Linked DNA regions of Homo sapiens: region 1 is linked to region 2. Evidence: fine-mapped expression QTL. A gene starts in region 2. The other region holds a variant in brackets. All regions are shown on one strand. Distances are between the middles of the regions. Region 1 has its middle 11 kb from the start of LINC00184. Region 2 holds the start of LINC00184 (long intergenic non-protein coding RNA 184).

The links. PIP is the estimated chance that this variant, and not a neighbour inherited with it, causes the effect.
Region 1: its variant is the best candidate, but not a certain one, in a credible set for the expression of LINC00184 in subcutaneous fat (TwinsUK, PIP 0.81).

Annotation. Positions count from the first base shown.
Region 1 is chr1:234,638,114-234,643,497 of GRCh38, reverse strand. No RefSeq gene overlaps it. Among named protein-coding and RNA genes, the nearest start is that of LINC00184, 11 kb to the right of the region's middle. RefSeq lists an enhancer at 81-375 and a silencer at 81-375. The variant C/G (reference allele first, on the strand shown) is at 2,398.
Region 2 is chr1:234,627,176-234,632,559 of GRCh38, reverse strand. LINC00184 (long intergenic non-protein coding RNA 184) reads right to left here and starts at 3,249. Exons shown (of 2, transcript NR_033927.1): 1 at 2,813-3,249.

The DNA.
Region 1 (5,384 bases), 11 kb before region 2:
GCTTTCCCCGCAACATTCATTGCCATGAGAACCATGGAGAGGGTACAGAATGTGTGCTGAAAAATGTTCACAGGTGCTATTTGCACATGACTTGCTGTAGGACGGGGGTAAACACAACTTGGTTTCTACTGGTCAAACTTTAACTCAAGATAAACTTGCTGACTGTGAAGTGTACCGCGTGATTGTTCAGTGTGTGACAGCAAACATAAACAGTCGGGGGAGCGGGGGCGTCCCAGGGTCCAGGGACCAGTGTGTGTGTCTTTCAGGAAGGCCAGCCTGGCTGCAATCTGCTCTGGTCGGGCGGCACCCCGCAGCTTGCCTCTGCTTGTGGGTTGTCAATGGGGAACATCACATGGTTGACTGTGAATGTGTTTGGGGACTTAGAGCTCCCAGCCCACTGATTTTTAATACTCATTATGGTTTCTGCTTGGAAATCCTGAAGGACTGGCAACTGCCTAGATAGCAGTTTTGACCAATAGAATCTTAAACAGAAATGACCAGTCATGGAAAATGAGTTTTTTAAAAATTAACTTAAAAAAATTTTAGACTCAGGGTATACTTGTGCAGGTGTGTTAGAAGGGTATATTGCATAATGCTGGGGTTTGGGCTGCTATTGAATCCATCACCCCAATAGTGAACATAGTACCCAATAGGTAGTTTTTCAGCCCTTACCCCACTCCCTTTGTCTCCCCTTCTGGAATCCCCAGTGTCTACTGTTTCTGTCTTTATGTCCACGTATGCCTATTGTCTAGCTCTCATTTATAAGTGAGAACATGACATTTGGTTTTCTGTTTCTATGTTAATTCACTTAGGATAATGGCATCCAGCTGCATCCATATTGTTGCAAAGGACATGATTTTATTCTTTTTTAGGGCTGCATAATATTCCATGGTACCACATTTTCTTTATCCAGCCCACCAGGAATGGGCACTTAGGTTGATTCCATCCTCTTTGCTATTGTGACTAGTGCAACTATAAACATCTGAGTGCAGGTGTCTTTTTGACATAACGATTTCTGTTCCTTTGGGTAGTTACCCAGTAGTGGGGTTGCTGGGTCAAATGGTAGTTCTATTTTTAGTTATTTGAGAAATCTCCATACTGTTTTCCATAGGGGATGAACTAATTTACATTCCCAATAACAGTGTATAAGCATTCCTTTTTCTCCACATCCTTGCCAGCAGCTGTAATTTATTGATTTTTTTTTTTTTTGAGACGTAGTCTTGCTCTGTCTCCCAGGCTGCAGTGCAGTGGTGTGATCTCAGCTCACTGCAACCTCCACCTCCCAGGTTCAAGTGATTCTTCTGCCTCGGCCTCCCGAGTGGTTGGGACTACAGGCACACGCCACCAGGCCTGGCTAATTTTTGTATTTTTAGTAGAGACGGGGTTTCACCATATTGGTCAGGCTGGTCTTGAACTCCTGATCTCGTGATCCGCCCACCTCGGCCTCCCAAAGTGCTGGGATTACAGGCTTGAGGCACCACCCCCAGCCTATTGACTTTTTAATAGCCATTCTCACTGGTGTGAGATGGTATCTCATTGTGGTTTTAATTTGCATTTCTCTGATGATTAGTGATATTGAGTATTTTCTCATATGTTTGTTGGCCACTTGCATGTATTCTTTTGAGATGTGTCTATTCATGTCCTTTGCCCACTTGGAAAATGAGTTTTATAAACCAATTGGGAAAAGAGGAAAGTGTCATCAATAGGGAGATAGCACCTGAGATAGATTTTGGAGGATATGACTTCTCTGAGATCAAACTTGCCTTTGATACACTGGGAACATTTTTATGAGCATAAAAATTCTAAAAGAGACTTGAAATATTTTTCTCTCATGTCATTTCAATCCATGGAGCTATTAAAATTTTCAAAACTTCAGGGCAAGAAAGATATATATCATCCGAATGTAAGCATTTGAGTAAGCAATCTCTGCCAGGGGTGGGGCGGGTAGGTTGACAATACTTAATATATATTTTTATTTACATAGAACTGAGCCATTGCTAGCCTCACATATCTAGAAAATAGCTTAGAAACAATGAATTTTTTAAAAAATAAAACAACACTTGAGAGACGCTTTTCTTATGCTTTTCTCAGAGAAGAACCAGCCCTCAGTTCCTGACTTGAAAAGCATTTATGTTTATTGCACACATATCCTTAACCAGTGTGAGTTTCTCTATGCCCACAGCAATTTAGAAATAGAAAATCAGCATTAGGGAGAAGGCTTTGCATAGTCTTGCACACTAACAAGAGGTAACTGCTGATGGCCCAAAGAAGAGAGCAACAGAAAAAAAATGTAAAAAACAGACAGGCACAAGAATTCCAAAAGGCACAGTAATTTGGGACCTCTCAGGTGTGCAGGCAAATATTTCTCTCCCTCTCTCTTTCTCTCTCTCTCTCTCT[C/G]TCTCTGTGTGTGTGTGTGTGTGTGTGTGTCTTTCTCTCTCACTTCTCTCTCTCTCTCCCCCCAACCATGGCCTAAACCTATTATTTTTTATCCGATAGCAGTGAAATCAGTTCTTTTTGTGATAATGTTACAACCAAGAAAAGAAAAAAATAAGAAGTTAAATAAAGTTCCTCCACTCTTTAAGAAAGCAGGGGCGGTTGAGTTACATTTTAGAAAGTGTTCTGCCAAAATCTTCTCTTTTGTTCCTTCTTTATTCCCTTCCTCCCTCCATTCCTTTTTTCTTTTTCTTTCTTTCTTTCTTTCTTTCTTTCTTTCTTTCTTTCTTTCTTTCTTTCTCTTTTCTTTCTTTCTTTTCCTCCCTCCCTCCCTTCCTTCCTTCCTTCCTCCCTCACTCTCCCTCTCTTTCTTTCTCTTTCTTTCTTTCCTTCCCTTCCTTCCTTCCTTTCTCCCTCCCTCCCTCCTTCTCTCTCCCCCTTTCTTTTTTCTCTTTCTTTCTTTTTCTTTCTTTCTCTCTTTCTTTTTCTTCTTTCTTTCTTTCTTTCTTTCTTTTTTCTTTCTTTCTTTCTTTCTTTCTTTTTCTTTCTCTCTCTCTCCCTCCCTCCCTCTCCTTCCTTCTTCCCTCCCTCTCTGCCCACCTCCCTTCTTTCCTTCCTTCCTTTCTTTCTTTTGGTGCTTTGAAGGACCAGCTCTTACTTGCCTAGAACTCAGCAATCCAGAATGGCTACAAAGCAAGCTGAGATTTTATGGTGTTTGTGCCATCATTTGCCAGTATATAGATGTGGGATTACACACTGTGTGATCAATGTTAGTTCCTATCCTTTAAGAATCGTCTCATGATTTTTAAGTTCCTGAACAGCCGAACGATTGTTGAAGATACTGTTACTTGAAAGGAAAAGAAATAAGGAGAAAAAAAATGAATGGAGGGAATTGTTAGATGATATGTTAGAACAAACATGACATCATCAACATAGTGGGAGGGTAAAAGGGAGTTCCCTTAAGGCACAAACAAAATTTCACCGTCCCATTTATTTTTACTTTTAGTTTAGTTCACAGACTTCAGAACCTGCTCATTATCACCAAATGCTCTTTCAAATGATGAAGTACTGAAAGAAAAACCTAAGTCACCTCCACATATGATATATAAGAAATGTTGGCACATCCAGATCTTCCTAAGGAAAGAGGGTTTGACTACAGCAATGTTGAATGCAAGCCTTATCAATTGCATCCTTCCTTCCTTCTTCCCACTCATAATACACACATATGCCCCTTGTATGTTAGGAACATTGTACTGGAGGGAATGTATAAAAACTCTAAGTTAATTCTTTTCTGAGGGCTTGCTATCAGCCAGGTACAGGGTTAAAGTACAAATACTTGATTATCACTTGACCACACCCTTGTGAGGAAACTGATGCTCAAGAAATTTAAGTAAAGTTTCTGAAAGACACACAGCTTGCAAACAACAGAGATGGGATTTAAAACAAGGTTGTTTATTAACCACTGGGCTCCACTACCTGCCAATGGGGTGTAAATAGTGATCCCTGGAAATAAATGACCCCCATTTTCTTAAAGGGCAGGGATAGGTTGAGAAAAATAGCCACTTTGATGGTATAGACCTGGAATGTGTGGAGGACCTTTGCACTACGCAGAATGGAATTGCTGGGCCCACTGATGTCGCTTAATAATTGACAGATGGCCTGTCTAAGTGACTCACATGCAACTCAGATTTCAGGGCTGGAAAGGCCATGGGCTAATGTGGAAAGGAGGTGCATCCCTGGGCAGGTTCTGTGGCCAACCACCCTGTTTAGACAGCTCTCCGTTCACAGAGAGCTTTCTGCTACAGTGAGCAAAATGTTTACAACCTGATGCCAACTTTTATCATACATCGAGAGGCTGCCTGTAACCAAATCACCCCTGCCCTGGGCAATGTGCTCTGTGTACAGATCTCCATCAGTCACACAACAGGTGCTTAATTCTTGGTGACAAAAGGTGACCTCAATTTCTTTAAAGATATAGCAAGCCCTAAGGATCCAATTATATGGAGATTGGGCCAAGTGATCCTAGAGGCCTTGCCTTCCACTATTTTGAGGTATTTACAAAATGCAGATAAAGGAATTGGAAAATAGAAATATGTAAACTGGGAGAAGAGAGAGAGAGGGAGAAATTGACTTCTGAAATTATTAGCCTGTCAACCTAACATTGGAGAAATATAGCAACCATTGATGAAAATATCAAGTTGTCAGCACTTAAACAGAGTGCTAAGAAAGCACTAAGCTGTACAACCATGTAACACACCAAGCCTCTTGGACTAACACAATTTCCTTATGAGACAAAATGGAATATGATGAAGCTGCAAATGCTTTGCCTCCACACTTCAGTGAGACCAGGCTAAGCAGGTGGGCCTGAGTCCTAGATACTTGGGCAAAGGTTAGACTCCTTAGGAGTAAGCTTGGGCGAGTTTGCCAAATCTTTGGTAATGGTTCATTCTTTAGCATTACAGGACAGTCACAAGTACCTAGAACATGAGCTTCTTGCCTTCACCTTGCAGACCTGACATTGTTGCTTTTTTGTGGTCTCCTGACTCTTAGGCGTAAAGTCAGAGGCCAACACTTATTGAGTAAGTGCTCAATAACACTGGTTGATGGCAATAATAGGTGCTCTGTAAGTACCTGCTCTTTGAGTCATTAATGCTTGAAAACACAGTATTTAATCATAATACTCCACCTCACTACACTAAAGCCAAAACACGGTGTCCACATTTCTGATTTAGGGAGAACATTTGTCATTTTTTAAAAAAGTATATAAATACCATAACCTTCAAAATTATTGAGATTTTTGACATTAAAAGCAATACAGAGTCATTGTAGAAAAATCTTAGAACACTAAAATATAGGCCAGGCGCAGTGGCTCACGCCTGTAATCCCAACAGTTTGGGAGGCCAAGCAGGGTGGATCATGAGGTCAAGAGATCAAGACCATCCTGGCCAACA
Region 2 (5,384 bases):
TTCAAGACCAGCCTGGGCAACATAACATGACCTCATCTCTACAAAAAAAAAAAAAAAAAAAAAAATCACTGGGCACAGTGGCACATGCCTGTAGTCCCAGCTACTTGGGAGGCTGAGGAAGGAGAATCATTTGAGACTAGGAGTTGAGGCTGCAGTGAGCCATGATTGCACCAATGCACTCCAGCTTAGGCAACAGAACAAGACCCTGTCTCTAAAAAAAAGAAAAAAAAAAGTTCAAGGGTGGTTCCAGATCCTTGAAAAATGTCTTCAGGAATATTCTCCAGGCTTTAGCTTTGCCTTCTTCTCTCTTGATTTCATTCTCAAGCAGGCAATCACTATTTTTTTGACAAGATGTCCACCAGAAGCTCCAGGCTAATTTTCTATTGGTTTAACCACCCCAGAAGAGAATTTATCCTTTCCAATACTTCTAGCATAACCCCTGTGGCTGACAATGTTGGTTCTGATAAGCTCAGCATGTAACATATACTCATTCTTGAATCACCAGCATGGTTAAAATTCTCATTGGCCAGACTTGGACCACATGCCCCACCCCTGGGGTTAGGGGTAAGAGTCAACCCCACCAGAAAACAAAGACTGAGAGTCAGGGAGGGGTGGTTCTTTAAAAGAAAACTAGGGTCTTGGTATCACAGGAGGAAGTGGATGTTGATCAAGCCAAAGTCCCAGATGCCCATGACACTATACAAAAAGAATGTACATTGTTCTGAGATGCTGATTAAGAAATACAAATCAACCTCCGCTTTTGAAAGTAGTTTTAAAAGAGGTCAACTTTCAGTGTCTTTCATGGAATTTCTGATTACTTTGAGCTAGTAATCAAGTCAACAATAAATTCTTTGTTTCTCTTGCAAACCCACATTGTCTAGGAACATTTCCTATTAATATCTATTTTAGAGTATCACATGAGTCTTGAGTCCTTCTTTCAGGAATAAAGGTAACAAACTGACAGAGATAAAAAACAAACAAAAAAAAGTGGTGGGGTAATTTTAAAATTTTTATGTCATAATTTTCTTCAGCAGGAAATTCTATTTGGCTGAGTGATTTTTGAACAGAGAGCAAATAATCATTTAGATATTTTTTTCTCTCTCTTTTTTTGAGACAGAGTCTTGTTCTATTGTCTAGGCTGGAGTGCAGTGGCGTGATCTCGGCTCACTGCAAGTTCCACCTCCCGGGTTCACGCCATTGTGCTGCCTTAACCTCCTGAGTAGCTGGAACTACAGGTGCCTGACACCATGCCTGGCTAATTTTTTGTATTTTTAGTAGAGATGGGTTTTCACCGTGTTAGCCAGGATGGTCTCGATCTCATGACCTTGTGATCTGCCCACCTTGGCCTCCCAAAGTGCTGGGATTACAGGCGTGAGCCACCGCGACTGGCCTAGATTTTTTTAAAAAGATAAAAAGCAATCACTATGTTTAGTACATGTAATGAAAAAAATATGAAAGAAACTCTCTCATGGGCTAGATACTGCCATTTTCTGGGACGGCACTATAATGTCTATCTCCAGTTCTAATTTTCTTTTTCACCTCAAAATTTTAGTATTCACTGTGACTTATATTTGATTTGTTGGATTCTTAATAATGGCTAAATTTAATTCCACTTTTTCTCTCTTTATAATCAGGGCCAGATTTTTAAAAAGAAATCCACACACTATAAATCCAAAAACCAAGTTATATTAAAAGTCAGATTTTCGACTGCATGGAGGGTCAGCGCCCCCAACTCCTGCAGTAGTCACAGGTCAACTATATATGTGTACACATGCACATACATCTAGTGTTTATGTATATTCAAATGTACATACATGTTTGCTGTATTTTTCATAATGTAATGAGTGCTTCCTATGCAGCAGGCACTGCGTTGTACTGGAGACCATCTTTGCCTCACAGAGCTTACATTTTAGTTGGGGAGATAGTGACAAACAAATGAATAAATACATCAACCAGATGATTAAAGACTGTGATCAGAGCCATGTAGGAAGTAAACACGGTGGTGAGACAGACGAAAGCTGGGAGAGCCCATTGTAGGTGGGAGGTCAGAGAACCTCCCTGAAAAGGTAACATCTTCAGTAGGGCCTCATGGAGGTGAATGATCAGTCACTACAGCAGAACAGAAGGCAGGCCAGTGTAATTGTGGTGGGGTCATTGGGGTAGGCAGGAGACAAATCAAGCAGGGCTTCATAAACCATGGTAGAAATATAAATTCAATTCTAAGGTAAACTGGAAGTCAGGAAGGGATTCATAGCCAAGAAGTGGCATAACTTGATTCAAATCTTAAAATGGTCACTTTTGCTCCTATAGAAAGAACGTGTGTCTCTATGAGAAATAAAATAGAGGCTTAAACAAGAGATTCCTCCAATATAAAAGCACTGTGGATGGGGTTAAGAGTCCCAGATGGGCCCAACAGCTCCACATCCATCAGAAACCTAGTCTTCTCTATCACCCTACCCCATTGTCTTAGAAAATGGTTTCCATTCACAGAAGTGCAAGATGGCCAGAGCAATTCCTGACATTTTGTCTGAGTGCTGAACTATAAAAGAAAGGGAACAAAAGACAACAGAAGTTTTCCCATCCCGTCCAAATCAGCTTCCTTGAAGCATCCTGTTTCAAAGTCACACAAAACACTTCTGCTTACATCTCATTGGCCAGAATTTAGTTACATGGTTACACTTAGCAGGGGAGGTGAGGAAACATGGTCTCTCACTTATGATGTCTACATCAGTAAGATACTTACAGCTATCAGAACAAGCAATCAAAATACGCTTAATGGCTCAAACATGATACAGGATTACTTCTCACTCACATGAAGTCCAAAATGATGTTCTGGATTGGCAGGTGGTTTTCCTCCAAGCAAGGATCTAAGGACCCAGGTTTCTTCTATCTTGTGCCTCTTTCACCTTCAACACTTGTCTTCCAAGATCTTGTTACTTAACTGCATTAAGCTGTGGAAAGATAAAGAGTATAGAGAACCATTGTGAGTTTCTGTAGGCCAGGACTACAGAAGTGTGAGTAGAAGGGACACATCACTTCCACTCACTAACGGCCAGAACTCAAACACACAGCTGCATATAACTGCAAGGGAGGCTGAGAAATGGCATCTGGTTGTGCCCAAGAAGAAGACCTGGGCTCATGACATGACCAGCCAGCAGCCTCTACCACTGGGGAAATGAGTCCAGCCAAAAACTAGGGTTCTGTTACAAAGAAAGAACCTTGGGAGATAGGTGGCAGTTTGTGTCACACGAGGCGACAGTGGAAACAGAAGACCAGTTCCACTAAAGAGCTAGCAAGCAAATAAATACTTGCCATCTGCCAGCAATGAGAGGGCACACTCAGAACCAGAAGATGACATAGTTCTACTGCAGATTCTGTTTCGCAATGACGCTCCTGCAAAAATATCTCAAGGATTTGCCTTCAGCCTACAAAACATTCTCAAAATGAAATTGCTATGATTAGTCAATTTAATTTTTATTTATTATTTGATTTTATTAATATTATAGAAAGCTTTTTAACAGTCTAGATGTGCTCCATAATCAGATATTGAGGCTTTACAGGTTTGGCCATACAGAGAGAAATATAGTATTAGTGACATAACATTGCTGCAAACCCAACTGAAGAAATTCCTGGTTGTGAGCTTTTACATATAATGTGTTCATTTTGAAATAATACTTTTATGTTCCAAATTTCTGTTTCCATTGATCATTTATTAATTTGTTTTTTTTATCTTGAGTTTTATTTAATCTACAAAATATACTACTGCAAGAGAGAAGGGTACTGGCTGGGGGAGTACCCAATGCTCACAACCATTCTCACTCAAATAATTAATATCTGGTGAACATTTACTATGATGTTCTAGGACAGCTTAGTGGGTCCAGCATAAGTGTAGATCCTGGAAAGGATAGACCAGCAGGCCTTAAAAATATAAAGGAGAGAATAAACAAACATAATGACACTAGGAGGAGAATGAGTAGATTTCAACATATGTGAATCAATCAGAAAGTAGAGTTAATTTAGTTAAGTGGTCAAGAGCACAATATTTGAATTATGTCGGACCTATATTCAAATTCTCAGTCAGCCACTTTCAAACTATGTAAAACTGGAGAAGTCACTTAACCCCTCTGAGCCTCACTTTCCTCATCTGTAAAAAACGGAGGATAATAACAACCTCATAAAGTGCCCAGTATAGTCAACGCCTGGATCATACTATAGTAAACACATGAAAAATCATGGCGATGATTAATAACCAAGGGGTTAGCATGACTAGTCCAGCCAGGGCTCGATGCCAGCTGCAGCTGAGTGGTAAGAAGATAGATCTTCTGTAAAGATCTTTGCAGAAACTCAAACAAGTCAGACTGGAGAGCATGCGTGACACAGTCAGGAAATCTCATGTCACATGTTTAAGTCCTAAATGTTTGACAATGTCTCTAAGCTTCCCAGGAGTTCAGAGGAAAAAGACTTGTGATAGAAGGGAGACCTGGGCTTCATGGATTGGAAGTTGACCTGAGCTTTGAAAGCTGTATAGGGTTGGAATAGGTAATAGAGGACCATTTAAGGTGTCTGTGCCTGGGACAGAGTAGTTACCCCAAAAATGGAGTAAATGAATGAAAGAAAGAGCAGACACAAAAGACTAAGACAGCAAGTCTAGTTCGTGAGTGAAGGGACTCCTTAATCATCACCTCTGGTGGGTGTTAATGTGTTGGGAGATGCATTGTCCACAGTGGGAGGAACCACGTGAGCAGAGCTTTCTAAACTGGGTGAGGAGTTTGGGTTGAAGTGCGGAGGAATTATGGAGCAGAGGAGGAAAATGATGAAAGCAGTACAAAGATCAATTCGGGGAGGGTCAGGAATGTATCGCACAAGGAAGCTGGAATGCAGAGAAGTCAGTCAGGAGTCTGCATGTGGAACTCGATGAGAAGTAAGGATGCTTGGCTGAGGGACTGGCAGTGAGACTTCAATAGGGATGGCAGTGGGCATGGGACCAGAGGCTCAATCAGGTCCTCAGATAAGGGGATGAAGAAGGAGACAAGCTTGTGGTTGGTTCATTAATGACTACAGAGTTAGCAGGAACTCTAATAGACAGGAAAATTGAAGAGAGAAAACCGAAGAGCAGGGGAAGATGGTGAGCTCAGTGATGTGTTTGTCGGCTGAGCCAGCGATGAGATACACAGGTGGAAATACCCAACAGGTACTTAGAAGTACAAAATTAGAACTCCAACACAAGAATAGAGAAGAGAGGGACTTGGAAGTCATTACGATAGAGACAGTAAACAAAGGCCATGAAATGTATTAGGTCTCTGAGGTGTTAGTATAAATAGAAAAAACTAGAAAATCAAAGACTAAGTCTTGCGCAATATATAAATTTAAAATATGAAAATTTC